Linked DNA regions of Homo sapiens. The protein of the gene in region 2 interacts with the protein of the main gene of each other region in a biochemical or structural test. Each region holds a gene or a part of one and is shown on either strand. Other genes may lie near its edges.

Region 1 (4,723 bases), on a different chromosome or scaffold from region 2:
AACTTAGATCTGTCAAGCCTCATCTTTATCATGATTGTTTCAGAACAATAATAAGAGAAAAATCTAAGGAGCCCAAATGGTTTAAAAGAAAAAAAAAAAAAACTTTTGAAGTGGTCTCAGGAAGTTGAAGTGTGACTAATTTTCTAGCCCAGTTCTGACTTACTCAAGTTTCAAAGGAGGGCACCTCTTGCAGAAATTTGAATAGCTTTTATTTTTAAACTTGGGGGACTCCAATCACATTGATCTCATTACTAAAAATTTTGTTGTCTGAGTTTATTTCCCTCTTATTCCGATAAAACTGAATGGCAGACTTCTTTTTTGTTTATCCTCTCTGCACTGGAAACAAACTCCATTGCCATTTGCAGGTCTGGGAATGTTAACCACAAGGGGCTGAGATACAACTCAAGAGTGCAGAATTCTGTCCTTGTGCTCAATCACTCACCTGAGCTAGGCCGACTGTCTGTCTCCAGGTGCTCTTCAGATGTCTTTTCTACATCCAGTCTCAGGTCACTTATCTGCTTGTCAAGCTCTTGCAACTGATTCAACAAACCAGCATCTCTTCGCCTCAAACAGTTCTGATTAGGAAGAAACAAAGGAAACATGAACATACAGGGGTGACAAAAGAACCAGAAAGTCTACTCTAAGGATTCAAATTACCCATCTGAAGAGTTCACTAAACTTAGAAAACCAAAATTTTACTGGATGACCTGAAGTAACGAAAAACTTCGAGAATTCAAGAATATGTCCTATGTTTAATTCCACTTTCTCACATTTTGTGGTGATATAAAGTTTCTTCATAAAAACAAGACTTGTTTTTAGTTTCAACTAATATATACAAACTGACTTTTCATAGATAGGGACAAGAAAAATGGACTGAGACTTTAAATCATCTGGTGTATAACCAGTCTTTTAAAAAACAATACTTCACAGTAGACTCTTTAATTTGAAATGAGAGTAAGAGATTTCCTATAATACACTATAATCTTAGGTGAGATTTTCTGGCCAAATGTCTTGGCCTGCAGAGTTTTGTTTTCTATTAGTTGCTTTGTGGGGTTTAATCAGTCTTAGAGCCTTTGAAAGTGAGAAACTAATACTAATAGCCAGTGCCAAGTATAATGTGAGCTGGCAGAATCCAAAACCCTCATGGGAAGGCCCATCGAGATTTGAACGCCTCTGGGTTTCCAAAGGTGACAGATGGATTGTGCTAACTCACACTGCCACCTAGTGCTTCCTATTGCTGGAAAAACGGGAGAACTCAAAAAGCATCTGGTTCAAATCATGAATGCCAAGTCTACAAATGAAAATAGTACCATAAATACTGACTGGACTGGAATTCTCTTGACATACTGCTTTGCTCCCCTCAAGCGGACAATAGGAATGCGCCACTTACAATCTTGAGATTCATGCAGACAAAAAGGTGCAATTGCACAAAACAATAAAATGTAAAAGTCACCAGCCATAACCAGTGAGAACTGGCTCAAATGAATGTTACATAGGAATCTGGTCTGTGACCGAAGCAGCACAGTAAAATGCCAAAACAGAGATATTACACAAACCACAGTGTACATCCTTACAAAACACATGCATATGAATATCTACGCCTCTTGTCTTTTGACTTAAAAAGCTTGGAGACATAAATTGTATGTTTGTTTGCTACAATTAATTTCTTCAGGAAAAATGAACCTATCAAGTAAAAGCACTTTGGTGCTTAAAAACACACACACACACACAGAGAAAAGAAATGATCTGAAAAGAGATAATAGAAGAAAACACATGACAACTGCACAGCATCACCACTTTATTGTGGGAGGGCCACTACCTGGCATGTGTCTAGTTTAGATAGTATCACTTGGTCAGGTGAGGACGTTTGCTGTTTCCAAAACTACATTTTAAGGTCACTGAAAACAAAGCTGTCGCCATTATTCTGAGGCGGGGTCAAAAGCTGTTCATCAATACATTAAGCTACAAAGTTCTTTTTCTTCCCCATTAATGAAGACTGCATAGAAAGACTGAGACACTGACAGAAACCCAGTAAGATAAATGCTTACCGAGAGCAGGTTCTCTTTTCTCCCACCTCCACCACCAATCACAGCTGGCAGAACGTATAAAATATGAGAGGAGGGGACACAGTCTCCAGCCAAATTTCCATCATTTCCATCTAGTTTGAGCTGCCTTATACAAAGGGCTTCTATTTGAAATTAAGCACCAGCCTGGGTGAAAGCTGGCATGCTGGGGAGAGCTCTCGGAGAGGCACGGCTCCCTACAGGCGCTCCAGTGTAATCGTAAAACTCGGCCCTGGACAGTTAAGCACGCCACAAACCCCCTCCTTGGCTTTTGGCCCCTCTCGGCGGGAGGAGATAAAGTCAAGAAAACCTCCAAATAAAATGGTATTTTAAGTGGGAGTTTGCAAACCGCTGGGGAGAGGGCATATACTCATCTAACTAAGGAGACCGAACGTTAGAACTAGGCGACTCCAAGAATCCCGAAGGCAGAGGAGGAGGGAAGAGCGGCCACCCCCTTCCCGCAATCCGCGCGAGGTCGCCAGACACAAAGCGGGCACACGCCAGAAACGCGTGGGCGTCGGCAGCCCACACGCCGCGGGCACTCAGGAAGGGGATCAGGGAGGTATGGGGCGGTCGGGGGCGTCCCATAACAGCGAGCATCTCCCCAGCCAGAGTCAACCTCGCGCCCGCCCCAGGCCACCTGCCCGACCTCCAGCCCCTGGGCAGGAACAGCCGTGCTCCACCTTCGGGCACGACCTACCAATTGCTTTCTTAGCAGCAAGATGTTCTCCTCCAAGAACTTCTCCTCCAGGCGACTGCGCTGCGCCGCCTCCCCCAGTAGCTCCCCAGCGCGGGGCGCAGCGGCTCCCGCACCCCCGGCGCCGCGCAGGGCGCCCCTGACCAGCAGCTCTTGGCGCTGGCGCAGGTACTCCAGCTCCGCCAGCCCGGCCAGCGTGGCCTCCTGCCGCTCCCGGGTGCGCTGCCGCTCGGTGTCTGCCTCGCCCTTCTCCCGCCAGCGCCCCTCGGGCTCCGCCGTGCGCTGCTCGCCTCGGGCCGGCGCCGGAGGCTCCAGCTCCTTCGCCGTCCCGGCCGGACTCGGCTTCATGGCCCCCAGTCGGGCAGCGAGAGCCGTCACCGCAGCCGGGCCGCCCAGGCGGAGGAGCAGGGCGCTAGGGCTGCGGCCGCGGGTGGGCTCATGCCGCCCTGTGGCGGGGCGCGGCGCTGGCGGGGACGGTGGCTAGAAGCCCTCGAGTCCTGCGCGCGACCGCCGGCTGCTGCTGTCCCGGCCCGGGCAGCGCCGTCCGCTGTCGCCGCGCGTCCCTCGCCGCGGCCCGGCAGCTGATAACGCCCTGCCCGGCGCTACGTCACGCGCGGCGGCCCTGCAAACCCCCGCCTGGCGCCCGCCTCCCCGCGCCGGCCCCTCGGCTGCGACGCTTGCGCCCCCAGGCTTCCCCTCCTCTGTCAGGCGCGCCGCCCGGCCCCCAGAGCCGCCTCCTCCTCGCTCGGCCCTCCCCGCCCCTCCTCGCCCCTCCCCGCCTCCTCCCCCGCTCTCTTCGCGGGCCTCCTCGCCCCCTTTTCGGGTTTACTGCACCCGATTTTGCCCTCGCTCCTCATTGGCTCTTTCTCGTCGCCCAAAGCTCGGGGCGAGCGCCTGGAGCCCCAGCATCCTGTTACAGTCGGCCGCGCAGGCAGGGGCCGCGACGGGACGCGGCAGTTGGGCTCTCCGGAGAACTTTCTGAAACTCGACCAAGTTGCAGCACAGTCTTAACCCTTTCCCCACACGGCCACTCCTCATTTCCACTCACACCGAGTTAGGTTTCTTTCACTTCCCAAGCAAGGTATTGCAAGTGTATTCACAGACACTGTGGGGTTGGTTCCTTAACTCCACTTTGTAAAGGCAAGCAATACAGAGCACAATGCAGTGTTCTAAAACTTAAGTTTTGTTGTCGTTTTAATTTTTTAACGTCGGTCTTACGATGGACGGCATTTAAAATTAGGCAGGAGGATGTCGTTGTATAGCGAGAGGTTGCATCAATTCTTTTACAAGCCTACGATTTGAGTGCGCGCGCGTGCGCGCTTTGGTTTTTGTTTGAGCTTTTATTATTACTTAGTCTGCGTTTACAATAAGAGCTCTGACTCAGAAATCAGACTGTCTGGATTTGTATCCCAGTTTCACCCCTAAATAGCTGTGCGGGCAACTTACTCCCTTCTCTGTGTACGTTCCCCCCACTGTAAAAGGGAGCAGCTGCTATGGGAACCTGCTGTTGAAGAATTATAATAGTATGCAGCATATGCTATATATTGTGGGGGCTGTGCACTTACAACGTGGCTAGCACATAGATAGTAAAGGTGATATGAGTTGTAGCTTTTCTCCAGAGGGATTTATAAGTCTTCCCTCTTGAAGTATCATGTATTGGTCATCTCTGCTTGGAACACACTACTCCAGACCCCTATCCCACTGAAATTTCCGGTGGGATAGGGGTCTGAAAATTCCACTAGCTGGCTTATCTGTGGAAAAGTACCACATATATCTTTAAAAGCAGTACATCCAAGAACCTCGGAAATTCAATCCAGCAAGTCACAATTGCTGAAGTTCAGGCAAAGTGTTGTGTGAAAGAGTGCATCCTATATCATTATTTCAGACACTTGCACTTTTGCCCATCTGCTTACCCGTGCTAGGAATTCCTCTTCTTTCCTCCCCTCTCTGTGTGGTCTAACCA
Region 2 (4,568 bases):
GCTCAGGTTGGTCTTGAACTCCTGGGCTCAAGCAATCCTCTTGCCTCGGTCTCCCAAAGTGCTGAGATTATAGGCAGAATCCACCGTGCCCGGCCCTGGGGCCATTTAATGACACAAAGTATAACATCAAAGCAGGTTAAAAAAAAAAAAGATGCAGTTTTGAAAAATAAGCTCAGAAGAAAAAGAGTAAATAATCAGAAAGCCACTGTAGCCTGGTGGTTAAGAGCAAGAGTGAGGCTGGGTGCGGTGGCTCACGCCTGTAATTCCAACACTTTAGGAGGCTGAGGTGGGAGGATCGCTTGGGCCCAGGAATTTGAGACCAGCTTGGTCAACATAGCAAAACCCCATCTCTACAAAAAAACAAAAAAATATGCTGTGTGTGGTGGTGCATGCCTGTGGTCCCAGCTACCTGGGAGGCTGAAGCAGGAGGATCCCTTGGGCCTGGGAGTTCAAGGCTGCAGTGAGCTGTGATTGAGCCACTGCACTCCAGCCTGGGCAACAGAGTGAAACCCCGTCTCAAAAACCAAACAACCAATCAACCAACCAACCAACCAAAAAAGAGCCAGAGAACAGGGCAGGCTGCCAAGTTCACCACTGTGCTGCGTGACCTCAGGCAAGTTACTGAACCTCTCTAGGCCCCTTTTAATCTCACCTCTAAAGTAGGAATAATAACTGTGCCACTTCCTAAGGTCACTCTGAGGATGAAATGAATGGGTCCACATCAAGCGCCTGCTTGCAGCCAGGTTCAAGACAGCCTGACCAACATGGTGAAACCCCGTCTCTACTAAAAATACAAAAAGTAGCTGGCTGTGGTTGTGGGTGCCTATAATCCCAGCTACTCGGGAGGCTGAGTCAGGAGAATAACTTGAACCCAGGAGGTGGAGGTTGCAGTGAGCCGAGACTACGCCATTGCACTCCAGCCTGGGCAACAAGAGCAAAAAACCCCATCTCAAAAAAAAAAAAAAAAACTACACAAGGAGAAAGTCATTATTTGGCCACCACCTCCCCAAGGCTCCTTCTGCTTTTTGCTTTTCAGGCATTGAATCTGTACCCTTTTCCCAAACCACATCCCTGCAAGACAGGGCAGCAGTGCCATTTCACAGATGGGGAGACTGAGGCTGGGAGAGGCCCCGCCATAGCTAGCACGGGTGGGCAGACTTGGGATTTGAGTCCAGTCCTGAGCGCTGCCCTGGCTCCTTCAGAACTGCAGAGCCCTGCCCTCTGCTCTGTTTCTCTCCCCTCCACCCGCCTTCCCACTCCTGGAGATCAGGAATGCTGGCCTCGCTAGAGACGCTGGAGCTTATAAGAAAAGGCACTGGAGCGCACCAATGGGGGGTGCCTGGGCAGAGGGAATCACACACCCGCTGTGCCAAGCCTAGAAAACCCGCCCCGGGGAGGAGGAGGAGTCACTTCTACAAACTCCCTCCCCACTCCCTCCACCTGTCCCCTGCCTGGGGAGCAGGGCATGGTGCGTGCTGGCAGGAGGGAAGGGAGGGTGGAGGCGTGGCCAGGTGACCTTGCACCTGAGTCTGGTGTTCTCATTCATGCCATGGACATGAAAATAACAGAATCTGCCTGGTGTGGAGGCTCACGCCTGTAATCCCAGCACTTTGGGAGGCCAAGGCGGGCGGATCACTTGAAGTCAGGAGTTCAAGATCAGCCTGGCCAACATGGTGAGACCCCCGTCTCTATTAAAAATACAAAAATTAGCTGGGCATGGTGGTAGACACCTGTGATCCCAGCTACTTGGGAGGCTGAGGCAGGAGAATCGCTTGAAACTAGGAGGCAGAGGTTGCAGTGAGCCAAGTTGGCACCATTGCACTCCAGCCTCAGCAACAGAGTTTTTTTTGTTTTTTTTTTTTCTAAGTGGGAAAGCCCAGGTGGGAGGATCATTTGAGCCCAGGAGTTCAAGAAGAGTCTGGGCAACACAGCAAGACCCTCCTGTCTCTATAAAAATAGAAGTTAAAAAATTAGCTGGGCATGATGGTATGCACCTATAGTCCCAGTTACTCAGGAGGCTGGGGCAGGAGGATTGCTTGAAGCCAGGAGTTCGAGGCTGCAGTGAGCCATAATGGCTCACACTTGTAATCCCAGCACTTTGGGAGGCCAAGGCTGGAGAATCACTTGAGCCTAGGAGTTTGAGACCAGCCTTGGCAACACAGAGAGACTCCATCTCTACAAACAATAAAAAAAATTAGCCGGGCATCGTGATGTGTGCCTGTGGTCCCAGTTACTTGGGAGGCAGAGGTGGGAGGATCACTTGAGCCTGGGAGTTCGAGGCTGCATTGAACCGTGATCACACCACTGCACTCCAGCCTGAGTGACAGAGACCCTGTCTAAAAAAAAAAAAGTGTGGGAGGGGGGACTTCATGGCTCTGTGCCTCAGTTTCCTCATCTGTAACATGGGGATAATTGAATGCACCTTTGATGAATGTATTAAATGAGATAGTACATGTAAGGCTGGGCGCGGTGGCTCATGCCTGTAATCCCAGCACTTTGGAAGGCCAAGGGGGTGGATCACAAGATCAGGAGTTCGAGACCAGCCTGGCCAACATAGTGAAACCCCGTCTCTACTAAAAATTCAAAAAAATTAGCTGGGCATGGTGGCACATGCCTGTAGTCCCAGATACTTGGGATGCTGAGGCAGGAGAATCACTTGAACCTGGAAGGCGGAGGTTGCAGTGAGCCAAGATCACGCCATTGCACTCCAGCCTGGGCAACAAGAGCGAAACTCTGTCTCAAAAAAAAAAAAAAAAAAAGAGATAGTACATGTAAAGCACCTGGCACAAAGGAAGTGTTTCATTCATTCACTCATTAATTCATTCAGCAAATCCTTCTTGAATCCCTGCTGCAACTCAGGCGCTGTTCTAGGCAGGGAACTGAGGGCTCAGTTTTGGACAAAGACAAAAATCTCTGCCCTCTGTGGGTGGATCAGTTGAGGTCAGGAGTTTGAGACCAGCCTGGCCAACATGGTGAAATCCCGTCTCTACTAAAAATAGAAAAATTAGCCTGGCGTGGTGGTGGGCACCTGTAGGTGCCCAGCTACTCAGGAGCCCAGCTACTCAGGAGGCCAGTAGGCAGCCAGCTACTCAGGAGGCTGAGGCAGGAGAATCACTTGAACTTGGGAGGCAGAGACTGCAGTGAGCAGAGATTGTGCCACTGCACTCCAGCCTGGGCAACAGAATGAGACTCCGCCTCAAAAAAAACAAAACAAGGCTGGGCACAGTGACTCACCCCTGTAATCCCAGCACTTTGGGAGGCCGAGGTGGGTGGATCACTTGAGGCCAGAAGTTAAAGGCCAGTCTGGCCAATGTGGTGAAACCCTATCTCTATTAAAAATATAAAGATTAGCCAGGTGTGGTGGTGCACCCCTGTAATCCCAGCTACCTGGGAGGCTGAGGCAGGAGAATCGCTTGAACCCGGGAGGTGGAGGTTGCAGTGAGCTGAGATCGTGCCACTGCACTCCAGCCTGGGCGACAGAGCCAGACTCTGTCTCAAAAAATGAAACAAAACAAAAAAACAAACAAAAAAACCTGAGGCCCTGAGAGAGGTAGTAACTTGTCACAGGCTCCAAACACAGGCCTGTCAGAGCTGGACTCCCCACCCTGAGCTGGGGACCCCCAAGTGCTCAGATGAACCTGTGTGGCCTCATGCCCATCTTCCCCGCTCCCCTCGACCAGGTGGCTGACATGGAGGAGCTGACCATCTGGGAACAGCACACGGCCACACTGTCCAAGGTGAGGCCTCCCTCTCCCTGTCTGGGTGCCAGAGAGTATGGCGGCTTAGGCCCAGCTCAATAGAGGGGAGACCCTTTACCCTGGGGGAAACAGCAGCTCTTCCTTCCCCTCATCCTCTCTCAGGACCCCCGCCGGGGCTTTGGCATTGCGATCTCTGGAGGCCGAGACCGGCCCGGTGGATCCATGGTTGTATCTGACGTGGTACCTGGAGGGCCGGCGGAGGGCAGGCTACAGTGAGTATCCAGGCAGCTGGGTTCTGGCGGGGGAGGGCACGTGGAGAGGAGAAACCAGGCCAGGCACAGTGACTCACACCCGTCATCCCAGCACTTTGCGAGGCTGAAGTGGGCGGATCACCTGAGTTCAGGAGTTTGAGACCAGCCTGGCCAACATGGTGAAACCCCGTCTCTACTAAAATTACAAAAATTAGCGGGATGTGGTAGCGTGTTCCTGTAATCCCAGCTACTCGGGAGGCTGAGGCAGGAGACTTGCTTGAACCCGGGAGGCAGAGGTTGCGGTGAGCCAAGATTGCGCCACTGCACTCCAGCCTGGGTGACAGAGTGAGACTCTGTCTCAAAAAGAAAGTAAGTGAGGTGAGGAGAAACCTTTGTGAGCCTGGCACTTTCCAGCTCTGTCAACACAGGGCTCGGACTTGGCAGTAGGACAGTGTCAGAGACTTGGGCCTCACTTCCCTAAGGTACTTCCTGGTCCTTCACAGGAATTCTTGGGGTCATAGTGGCCCCAGAGCCCTTTTGGAACATAAAGTCCTGGAAACCATCGAGTGTTTGAGGGTTTGATGCTTCTTGGAATTATGTTGTTAAAATGGTTCTGGGC
Region 3 (4,638 bases), on a different chromosome or scaffold from region 2:
AGGGGAGGAGAGAGGGAGAGAGGGAGGGAAAGGGAGGGGAGGTGAGGGGGGAGGGAGAGGGAGGGGGAGGTGGGGAGGGAGAGAGAAAAGGTGGGGGGAGAGGGAGGGGGAGGAGGGGGAGGGAGAGAGAGGGGGAGGTGGGGAGGGAGAGAGAAAGACAGGGTGGGGGGAGAGAGGGAGGGAGAGAGAGTGGGGGGGGAGAGAGAGAGACAGGGTAGGGGGAGAGAGGGAGGGAGGGAGAGGGAGAGGGAGGGGAAGAGGCCTGTGGCTCTCCGCTCCCCAGGGACCAGCATGGAAATCCAACACGCCATGTTTGCGGCTCCCTCTGGCTGCCTGTGGAGCATGCATTCCGGAAGGACAGTGGTCTGGAGACAGCCCGCGGGCTGCGTGGGAGTCCAGGTGGGTGGGATGGCGGCCCAGGTGCAGAGGCCTCTGAGCTGCACCCTCCCTGGGGAGGCACTTTCGGCCCATTCCTCCGTAGCAAGGAGGCCAGGTGGAGGGGACAGAGGAGCCACCGATGGTGGGACAGGGAGAGGGCGGCTGTCGGGCTCCGGTCCATCTCCAACACAGGCCCTGGGTCCCCAGCACGTGTGGTTCCCAAATGCCTGTTTGATTTTTTGTTTTCGAGATGGGGTCTTGCTCTGTTGCCCGAGCTGGATCGAAGTGGTGCTGTGATCACAGCTCACTGCAGCCTCGACCTGTGCTCAAGTGATCCTCCTGCCTCAGCCTCCCTGTCTTTGTAGCTTCTTAGCTTCAGAGGAGCCTCAGGGTTCCTCCAAGGCCACTCCCATGCCCAGAGCCCAGCGAGGGGCTCCACAGGCTGCCAGGTCCCCGGCTCTGCGGCCCCCAGTGCTCCACCTCCGGAGTTAGACTTCAGAGCAGCAAAGGACACAAATAGACCATTATTGCTGTACCTGACTCTTGGAACATAATTCTGCAAGAGCCGTTATTTGGAAGCAGTATCCTCTGAATCATAAAATTACGCACTCACGGGGAATTGTCCCGGTGGCCCTGTCCCTTGTGGGTGGGGGATTCACTGGAGGGGGAGCCAGCAGTAGGAGCTTTCTGATCCCGAGCCCTCGGCCACGAAGGGATCTGCTCAGCCTGACATGGCACTGGGAGAGACCCCGGCCCCTGACCACTCCCCACACGGGCTGCGTGGTCTGGGGTAAGTCACGGGCTTCTCTGAGCCCAGCTTCTGGGATAGGCAACTCCTGCAAACTGTAGGGTTGCTGAGCTGATGAAACTGAGTGAGCTTCTGTGTGCAGGGTGCTGCGTGCATCCACTCCCAGCAGCATCCATCCCTCCCATCTCCTGCCCCCACCCCACAACTCACCATCTGCAGGTGCCCGGTGTGCCAGGGTCAGCCCAGAAGCCACAGGGGACCCAGATGGCCCCAGTCTGCCCACAGCACCGCTCCCGGCCTCACCTCCCCACGACGGGGACCACAGCGGGGCTGGCATACACTGGGCGCTCAACGATTGCTCCCACAAGCTGCCCTAAGCAGCCCAGCATTTCCCCAGCATCCAGGAGGCCGCTGGGCTCCTCGGAGAAGGGGGCAGTCTTCACAGGGGCCTGGGACCAGAGGCGGGGCCTCAGCACCAAGTCCTCCATGACTGGGTGGAGGTCTAGCCTGCACCCTGCCAACTCCTTCCAGGCTAACCCAGCACGAGGTCGGGGAGTCGGCTCCTTCATGGGGGGCAGCGATGCGGCTGCAGCTTGGAGGGGCTGCGGAACCTGCTGCTCGGGGAGGCAGCGGCTCACACGGCCGGGGCCCACGCCGCACCCTGGAGAGGCTGCAGACCCACCCGGGCTCCTCCATTGTGTGCTGGGCAGGGGCAAACGTCGGGGGACACCCTAGCTAAGACTACAGGCCCCAGCCCCTCCAAAGGCCCCGGAGCCAGGCCTGTGCTCCCAGGACAAGCGTTCTGACCTGTTTCCTCTGTCGTAAGGGTGGCCTGGTGGCAGGCCACTGCCCCCTTGGGGTCCAGCTCTGTGAGTGCAGCCAATGGCACCCCTGCCTGTCCCCCACATACACGCCACCTGTCCCTGCGGCAGCCTGTGGCCAGGGGCACATACCCTCCCCAGGAGAGGGAAACTGAGGCAGGTGTGGGCCAGCCTGGAGCAGCAGCAGCAGGGGTCCCGCGTGCTCCGCGAACGCTTCTCGGGGCACCCTCCACACCAGGCACCTCCTGACAGCCTCGCTGGGTCTTGCTCTGGAAATCAACGCCAGGCGCCTGTCCTTGGTGCTGTTGACCAGTTTCTGCCCAGGAGGCTCTGGCAGTCCCCACCTACATAGTCCAGAATCACTGCCTTCAGAAAGGGCTCAGCCTCACTGGAACCATCCCCAACTTCTGTCACCATGCACTCCGCTCTCTTGCCCTTGAGGGGGCCCCAGGCAGGCTGGCAGGCTGGGGACAGCGGGTCGGGCACGTGGGTGGGTCTGGGGTGGGGGAGGAGGGCCAAGGGCACACACCCCAGTGGCGTGTTCTCTATTCTGGAGAGGGTGAAGACGCCAGGAGGATTCCAGGTACACGCGGTGCCTTGGACAGGAGGGGGCTCTGTTCGCAGCGGGCGGGGTGGCACCCCAGCCTCCCCAGTCTTGGGTTTCAGGGAACCCATCTGTGAGTGCCAGGTCACAGGGCCCCTGGGTGCTGGCCTCTGCCTGCTGCCTTCCAGGAGCTCACCGACCCAGCTGCGCGCAGGCACCAGTTGCCTCCCCCGGCACCCAAATTGCGGATCCTCCCCTCGCTGGGTGCCACGGGCACCCTGGGACCCTCCTTCCGTGGCCCAGTGGTTCCCTGTGGCCTGAGTGCCACTTCCGGCCCCCAGCCCCAGGCTCCGAGCCCTCCCCAGCCTTACCCACCCTCCTCCAGCTCCAGGAGCCAGCCCCGCTGTGGCCCCCGTCGTGGGGAGGAGAGGCCGGGAGCGGCGCGGTGGGCAGAGTGGGGCCATCTGGGTCCCCTGTGGCTTCTGGGCTGACCCTGGCACACGGGGTGCCTGCAGATGGTGAGTTGTGGGGTGGGGGCAGGAGATGGGAGGGATGGAGCTGCTGGGAGTGGATGGAACGGGAGGGGAGGGACCCCCGGCGGCGGCAGGAGAGCCCCGCGGGTGTGCGGAGGGCGCGTGGGGGACAGTGCGTGCAGCGGGCTGGGGGCGCACGGCGGGACCCCGGGCCGGGGCTGCGCACACAGGGTGAAACCCCCAGTGGGGATAACAGCCGAGGGCAGGGGGTGCCCGCGCGGGAGGGGGACAGGGGCGGGCGGCACTCACCTGGGCGGCGGCGCCCTCTGAACGGGGGAGCCCCGATGTCCGCGCGGCACTGGCTCCGGGCTCCCGGGCGCCGGCTGGGAGGGGGCGGGGCGGGGCGGGGGCGGGGCAGTGCCTGGTGGGGGCGGGGCAGGGCCGCTTCACCTGCTCGACTCCCGGGTCCCACGTCTGGCCTCCGGGAACCCTGGCGCACTCGCCCACAGCCCTGGTCCCACTGGCAGTGACCCCATGATCGCCTGCGCCCCCACCCTATTTTCTTGCTGTCCGCTCTGTGGTAGACCCCAGCTTGGGGTGGGGGTCCTGCCGCCAGCAGGAGTCCAGGGGGTCCCTCGTCGAGAGTCTGAAGAGGGTGGAGGGTCCTTGTTCAAGGGGAGAGGGTCAGGGGCTCTGCAGACGTCTCTGAGGGGTGGGCTGGGGTTGTGGAGATAAGTGGGTGTGTGGAGGCTGGTGGGGGCGGCAGGCAGCCCCAGCGAGGGGGGTCCGTGGTCGTGGGATTTCCAGGACACTCCACTCGGGTTTTATCCATGCCTTATTTGTGGATCCTACACATATTTAAGCATAGACTACCTGCTAAGTTGTTCTTTTTATTTCCCCTGAAATGAATCCATGGGTACACCTTAGTCCCTCACCTAAGGTGGGGTTCTCAGGCAGGCAGCAGAGTCACCTGGGTCCTCAAAGCAGATTCCTGGGCCTCGAGCTGGGCCCCCGACTCCCCAGGCAGTGAGGGCCTGGGAATCTGCATTCCTGAGAAGCTCCCGGGATGCTGATCCCCGGGCCCGCCGTGAGCGCCGCTGGTTGTAAGAAGCGGGACCGAGCGCCTCCTCCCGCTGAGCGCGGAGGCTGGGGATCACCGGACATTTTCCCACCAGGAGGTCCCCCAGCCCCCTCCCCTGACTCTGTGCCGACCCAGGGAGCCCCGCCACTGGCTGAATGAAGTGAGGCGCCCCCAGGTGACAGCAGAACTCGGAGGGCCCCTCTCTGAGGGGACATGGGAGCAGCCGCCTGCCGTCTGTTCACAGGTGGGGTCGGCTCCTGTTGAACAGGCGCCAGCAGCTCCCTTGAAGGCCGGGTACCGGGACCATGTTCTCTCCTTTAAGCGTTTCAGTGTTTCCACATGTTCTGCAAGCAGCGCGTGTTATGTTTACCATCGAGCAAGAGTGCTTAGAGGACCATGGCACCTGGCCCCAAGGTCCCCTCCCCTCCTCCCCAGCCTGCGGCCATGGCCAGGCCCTCAGGGGAGGCTGCAGGCTGGTCCCAGGTCCCCTGCCCAGAATCCGCCCCATAAGCCTTTCCATCCTCTCTGGAGGTACCTGGGCTGTATCCCTCCCACCCTCCCACAGCAGTGGCTTCCCAAGGCAGATCCTCTGA
Region 4 (4,096 bases), on a different chromosome or scaffold from region 2:
GCAATATTCAGTCAACATAAAACTCTTTAAGAACTCCTCCTGACTGGTGACTGTCAACACTTGATCTGAAACGTGAATAGTTTAATTTTCCTGAGCAAGGAGCTGCGAGTCTAGCTTTAGAAAAGCCCCTAGGAGTGTCCACCTCCACCACTTCCACCGTGCAGGCAGGTTTCAGGTGGGTTGGACCCTGTGGGACTTGCCGTCTGAGGGATGGATGGACTCCGAGCACCCTCCCCGGCTCAGCACCCGCGGCCTCCGCCCACTCAATGGACTGTGCCTCCCAGAGCTTGGGCTGGATGGTCTCCCTGCAGAGGACCAGGAGCTCTGTCCAAGGCCTCGCCCTGGGACGCTGGAAGGGGTGGGAAGGGTCAGGGGTCCGGGGTCTAGGACAGGCTCAGGGGTCTCAGCAGGTTCTCCTTGGAGGGCCTGAGCCTGGTAGGGGGGCGGTGCCCTGGGCCCCTCCATGCCCCCTGGTTTGTTAAGGGGGACAGAGCAGCTGCTGGGCCCCACCATCCACTTAAGGACTGGCCGTGATTCTTGGCAAGCTCCGCCCGCCAGGCCACCTCTCACCCAGCCAGGGCACCCCGGGCGACCTCCGCGCCAGGTGCGACAGCTCAGGCCGGAGACCTCGTCTGTGGGGACGGGCCGTGTCCGGGGCCGCCACCCTGAGACCGGGCGCGGGCAGGACGGAACCTGGGGGGGAAACGGGGCAGGTACTGGCTTTAGGAGTCTAAATCCCCAAACGCTGAGCAGACGGAAGACGTTCCTGCCACTTTACCTGCAGTTCAAAGACCTGGCGAGGGCCTGGAAACGGCGCTCGGCCCAGGCCGCTTGCGGGCGCTGGGCCTGCAGCCGCTGCAGGTCGGGCCCTGAGTCCTGGCGCTCGGGAGGTCCCTGAGTCGGTCCCCGAGTCAGTCCCCGGGCGCGGGGCTCGGTTGGGGGGGCCCGGAACCTTGGGCTGGTTTCACGCAAATCCGTTTGGGGCGAGCCTCGGTTTCCCGGCAGCGGTGGGAAAGGGCGCGAGCGGCCAGCCATGGCGCGCGGACCCTTCCCGCCGGCGGCGTCACAGCGGCGTCTCCTCCTGCTCCAGCGCGTGCGGCGGTGCGTGGCACGAGGGCGGCAGCGACGCCAGCTTCAGCAGCGCGGGGCGGCGGCGCGCGCGAGGCCGCTGGAACGAGCGCCGGCTGTGCACGCGGCGCGCCGCCGCCGAACGCGCGTGCGCACTCGGCAGCCCTCGGCGCTCCGGCCCCGCCCCCGGCGCAGGCCCCGCCCCCGGCTCGCCCTCGGGCGGCTCTGCGGGCGCAGGCGCGGCACTCTCGGAGTTCTGCGCAGGCGCTGGCGTGGGCGAGGCGGGGCTCGGGGCTCGCGGTCGCTGTAGCCGCGCGGGGATCTGGGGTTTCTCTGGGACAGCGGCGGCGGCGGTGGGCGGACCGTGGCGCGGGGACGAGCGGCCGGTTAGCGGCGTGTCGGAGCCGGTGTCACCTGCGGGAGAGGAAGGCGTGAGCGGCGCGCGGAGCCCGGGCGCTGGGGCGGGAGGGGCGTCCCCGGGGGCCTCAGCTGTCCCCGAGCCCGGCGGCTCTCGCCTCCCCTCCCGCGGCGCACCCCAGGCTCGGCGTCCGCTGGGGCCTCCTCCCAGGACCCGGGTTCGCGGGGCAGAGGCGGAAGCAGCAACAGCGAAGCCCCAGCCCGGCCCCGCCACGTCCCCCCGCCGGGGGTCCCGGGACAGCGGCCTCCTCGGCGCAGGAAGGTCCCGCCCCAGGCCCTGCAGCGCGGGAGGTCAAGGTCCCCAAGGGGACCTGCTTCCTCCATCTCAAACCGCCCTGGCGTCCCCCGGGTGCCTCCCAGGCCCCCAGAGGGAGCTCAGAAAGCCCAGACCCCACGGCCCGCCCCTCTCCCTGCTCTGAGCTGGAGGCAGAGTCCGGGTCTGCGGGGCCGGCCCTCCCTGTATCCCTGTGAGAGGGTCGGGGACCCGGGGCGTCTGTCTGGCTTCCCCCAGCCCTGCTCTCAGCTCCCTGGGAGCGCAGGATTTGGACTCGCGGACTAGCTTTCGGAGCCACCTAAAGGAAATCTCAGGCGGCCCTAGTGCCCTCAGCTCCGTGGGAGCAGCAGAGACGCCAGAGTATCTCTGTCCGGGCTCCTGAGGGAGGTGCGGCCAGCAGGGCGCTAGAGGAGGAAGAGGGGCTGCTGGAGAGAGAGAGCGCGCCAGGTTCAGGTCCAGGGAGGAGAGAGAGCGAGCGCGCGAGGCGGAGACCTGGAGGGAGAGGAGCTGCGGAGAGGGGTTAGGCGGGGAGGGAGAGAGAGAACCAGGTTCCGGTCCAGGGAGGAGAGAGACAGCGCGCGCGAGGCGGAGACCTGGAGGAGAGGAGCTGCGGAGAGGGGTTAGGCGGGGAGAGAGAGAGAGCGAGCCAGGTTCAGGTCCAGGGAGGAGAGAGACAGCGCGCGCGAGGCGGAGACCTGGAGGGAGAGGAGCTGCGGAGAGGGGTTAGGCGGGGAGGGAGAGAGAGAACCAGGTTCAGGTCCAGGGAGGAGAGAGACAGCGCGCGCGAGGCGGAGACCTGGAGGAGAGGAGCTGCGGAGAGGGGTTAGGCGGGGAGAGAGAGAGAGCGAGCCAGGTTCAGGTCCAGGGAGGAGAGAGACAGCGCGCGCGAGGCGGAGACCTGGAGGGAGAGGAGCTGCGGAGAGGGGTTAGGCGGGGAGGGAGAGAGCCAGGTTCAGGTCCAGGGAGGAGAGAGACAGCGCGCGCGAGGCGGAGACCTGGAGGGAGAGGAGCTGCGGAGAGGGGTTAGGCGGGGAGAGAGAGAGCGAGCCAGGTTCAGGTCCAGGGAGGAGAGAGACAGCGCGCGCGAGGCGGAGACCTGGAGGGAGAGGAGCTGCGGAGAGGGGTTAGGCGGGGAGGGAGAGAGACAGCGCGCGCGAGGCGGAGACCTGGAGGGAGAGGAGCTGCGGAGAGGGGTTAGGCGGCGGGAGGCCCGGGAGCGTTACATGTGTGTGGACTCGGGGAGGGCGGCGGGGGGCCGCTCCTCGGGGCCGTCTGCCTGCAGGAAGGAGTCCACGGACTTGCTGCTGAGGCGGAAGGGCATCAGGCGGCAGAAGGTGCCGGGAGAGTAGGGAATCTGCGTGCGGGCCCTCTGCGAGGGGACCACCGTCTCCCCGGGAGACAGCCAGGGCGGCAGCCTGGCCAGGAGGCTGCGGTCCAGGGCCTCGTCCGGAGAAAACACAGGGTTGTCAATTCCTAGGAGAGAGGGCAGCGGCTAGTCAGCCTTCGGAGAGCCCCACGGCGGCAGGGGAGACCTCGCCGGGGCCGTCACCTGCTGGGTGCCTTGGAAAGTTAGGGTCACCGGGAAGGTTAGGGTCACGTGCCTTTCAGGTTGCGGGCCCTTCCCCCACATCCATGACCCCACACGCCACAGGCAGCACAGGTAACGTCTCGCTTCCCTCAAGACATACCCCACCTGCTCCCTGCCCGGCCCACGTCTCCCCGGACAGCAGCCTCCGAGTTGGTTGAGGGGGCACTCAGTGGGTGCCAAGCAGGGCCCTTGAGAACCCACAGGAGACCCCACCCCCCCAGGTCCCAGTGCCCCTGGTCCAATGACCGAGCTCCCTCCTGGGGCGGCAGGAGCCACCCCTCCCTTAGCCACGACGCCTGTGCCCCGTCCCCACCTGCAGGGGAGTCGGACGCTGTGTCCTTGGTGACACTAGCCAGGAACTCGATCCCCCCACTCATCTCCTCATCATAGTTGGGGGGCTCCTCGGTGTCTGAAAGTTCCAAGTCTGGGGAAGACAGGTTGGGGTGAGGACTGGGGTCACTGGGGGGCTGTCCTCACAGCCCAGTCAGCAGTGTCCATCAGCTCTGTGCACAGAGGTGCAGGCAGTCGGGACCCACAGAGAGGAGGGCTAAACCGCAGGGCTGGAGGAGGGACCCCACTTAGAGGGCAGTGTCCCTGGAACCCCATCCTGGGTGGGTCTGCAGCTGGGGCCCTGACCATGCCTCCCCTGCCTGGGTGGCTGGAGGGTCCCCAGAGGGGAAGGTCCTGAGAGGGGAGGTTCCCGAGCCGGGAGGGCTGGGGCTGGGAGGTGGTGGCTCCCAGTCCCAGCG

Evidence for each region. Proteins that work in one complex are often made in the same cells at the same time.
Region 1: the proteins of TJP3 (region 2) and DACT1 interact in a test that uses a peptide from one of them, tested with the Homo sapiens proteins (one large-scale study listed by IntAct).
Region 3: the proteins of TJP3 (region 2) and SSTR5 interact in a test that uses a peptide from one of them, tested with the Homo sapiens proteins (one large-scale study listed by IntAct).
Region 4: the proteins of TJP3 (region 2) and SLC9A3 interact in a test that uses a peptide from one of them, tested with the Homo sapiens proteins (one large-scale study listed by IntAct).

What each region holds. Positions count from the first base shown.
Region 1 is NC_000014.9:58,636,588-58,641,310, reverse strand, and holds the start of DACT1 (dapper homolog 1), read right to left. Parts: upstream 3,350-4,723; 5' UTR 3,109-3,349; coding exon 2,764-3,108; intron 2,475-2,763; exon of another isoform or gene 2,049-2,474; intron 1,899-2,048; exon of another isoform or gene 1,820-1,898; intron 576-1,819; coding exon 443-575; intron 1-442.
Region 2 is NC_000019.10:3,724,744-3,729,311, forward strand, and holds part of TJP3 (tight junction protein ZO-3), read left to right. Parts: intron 1-3,680; coding exon of another isoform or gene 3,681-3,689; coding exon 3,690-3,737; intron 3,738-3,860; coding exon 3,861-3,970; intron 3,971-4,568. UniProt on the Homo sapiens protein: TJP1, TJP2, and TJP3 are closely related scaffolding proteins that link tight junction (TJ) transmembrane proteins such as claudins, junctional adhesion molecules, and occludin to the actin cytoskeleton.
Region 3 is NC_000016.10:1,071,458-1,076,095, reverse strand, and holds the start of SSTR5 (somatostatin receptor type 5), read right to left. Parts: upstream 3,350-4,638; 5' UTR 3,274-3,349; intron 1-3,273.
Region 4 is NC_000005.10:471,901-475,996, forward strand, and holds part of SLC9A3 (sodium/hydrogen exchanger 3 isoform 1 precursor), read right to left. Parts: intron 3,772-4,096; coding exon 3,661-3,771; intron 3,420-3,660; exon of another isoform or gene 3,237-3,419; intron 3,233-3,236; coding exon 2,983-3,232; intron 1,500-2,982; exon of another isoform or gene 1,483-1,499; coding exon 1,479-1,482; 3' UTR 1-1,478. UniProt on the Homo sapiens protein: Plasma membrane Na(+)/H(+) antiporter. Exchanges intracellular H(+) ions for extracellular Na(+) in 1:1 stoichiometry, playing a key role in salt and fluid absorption and pH homeostasis.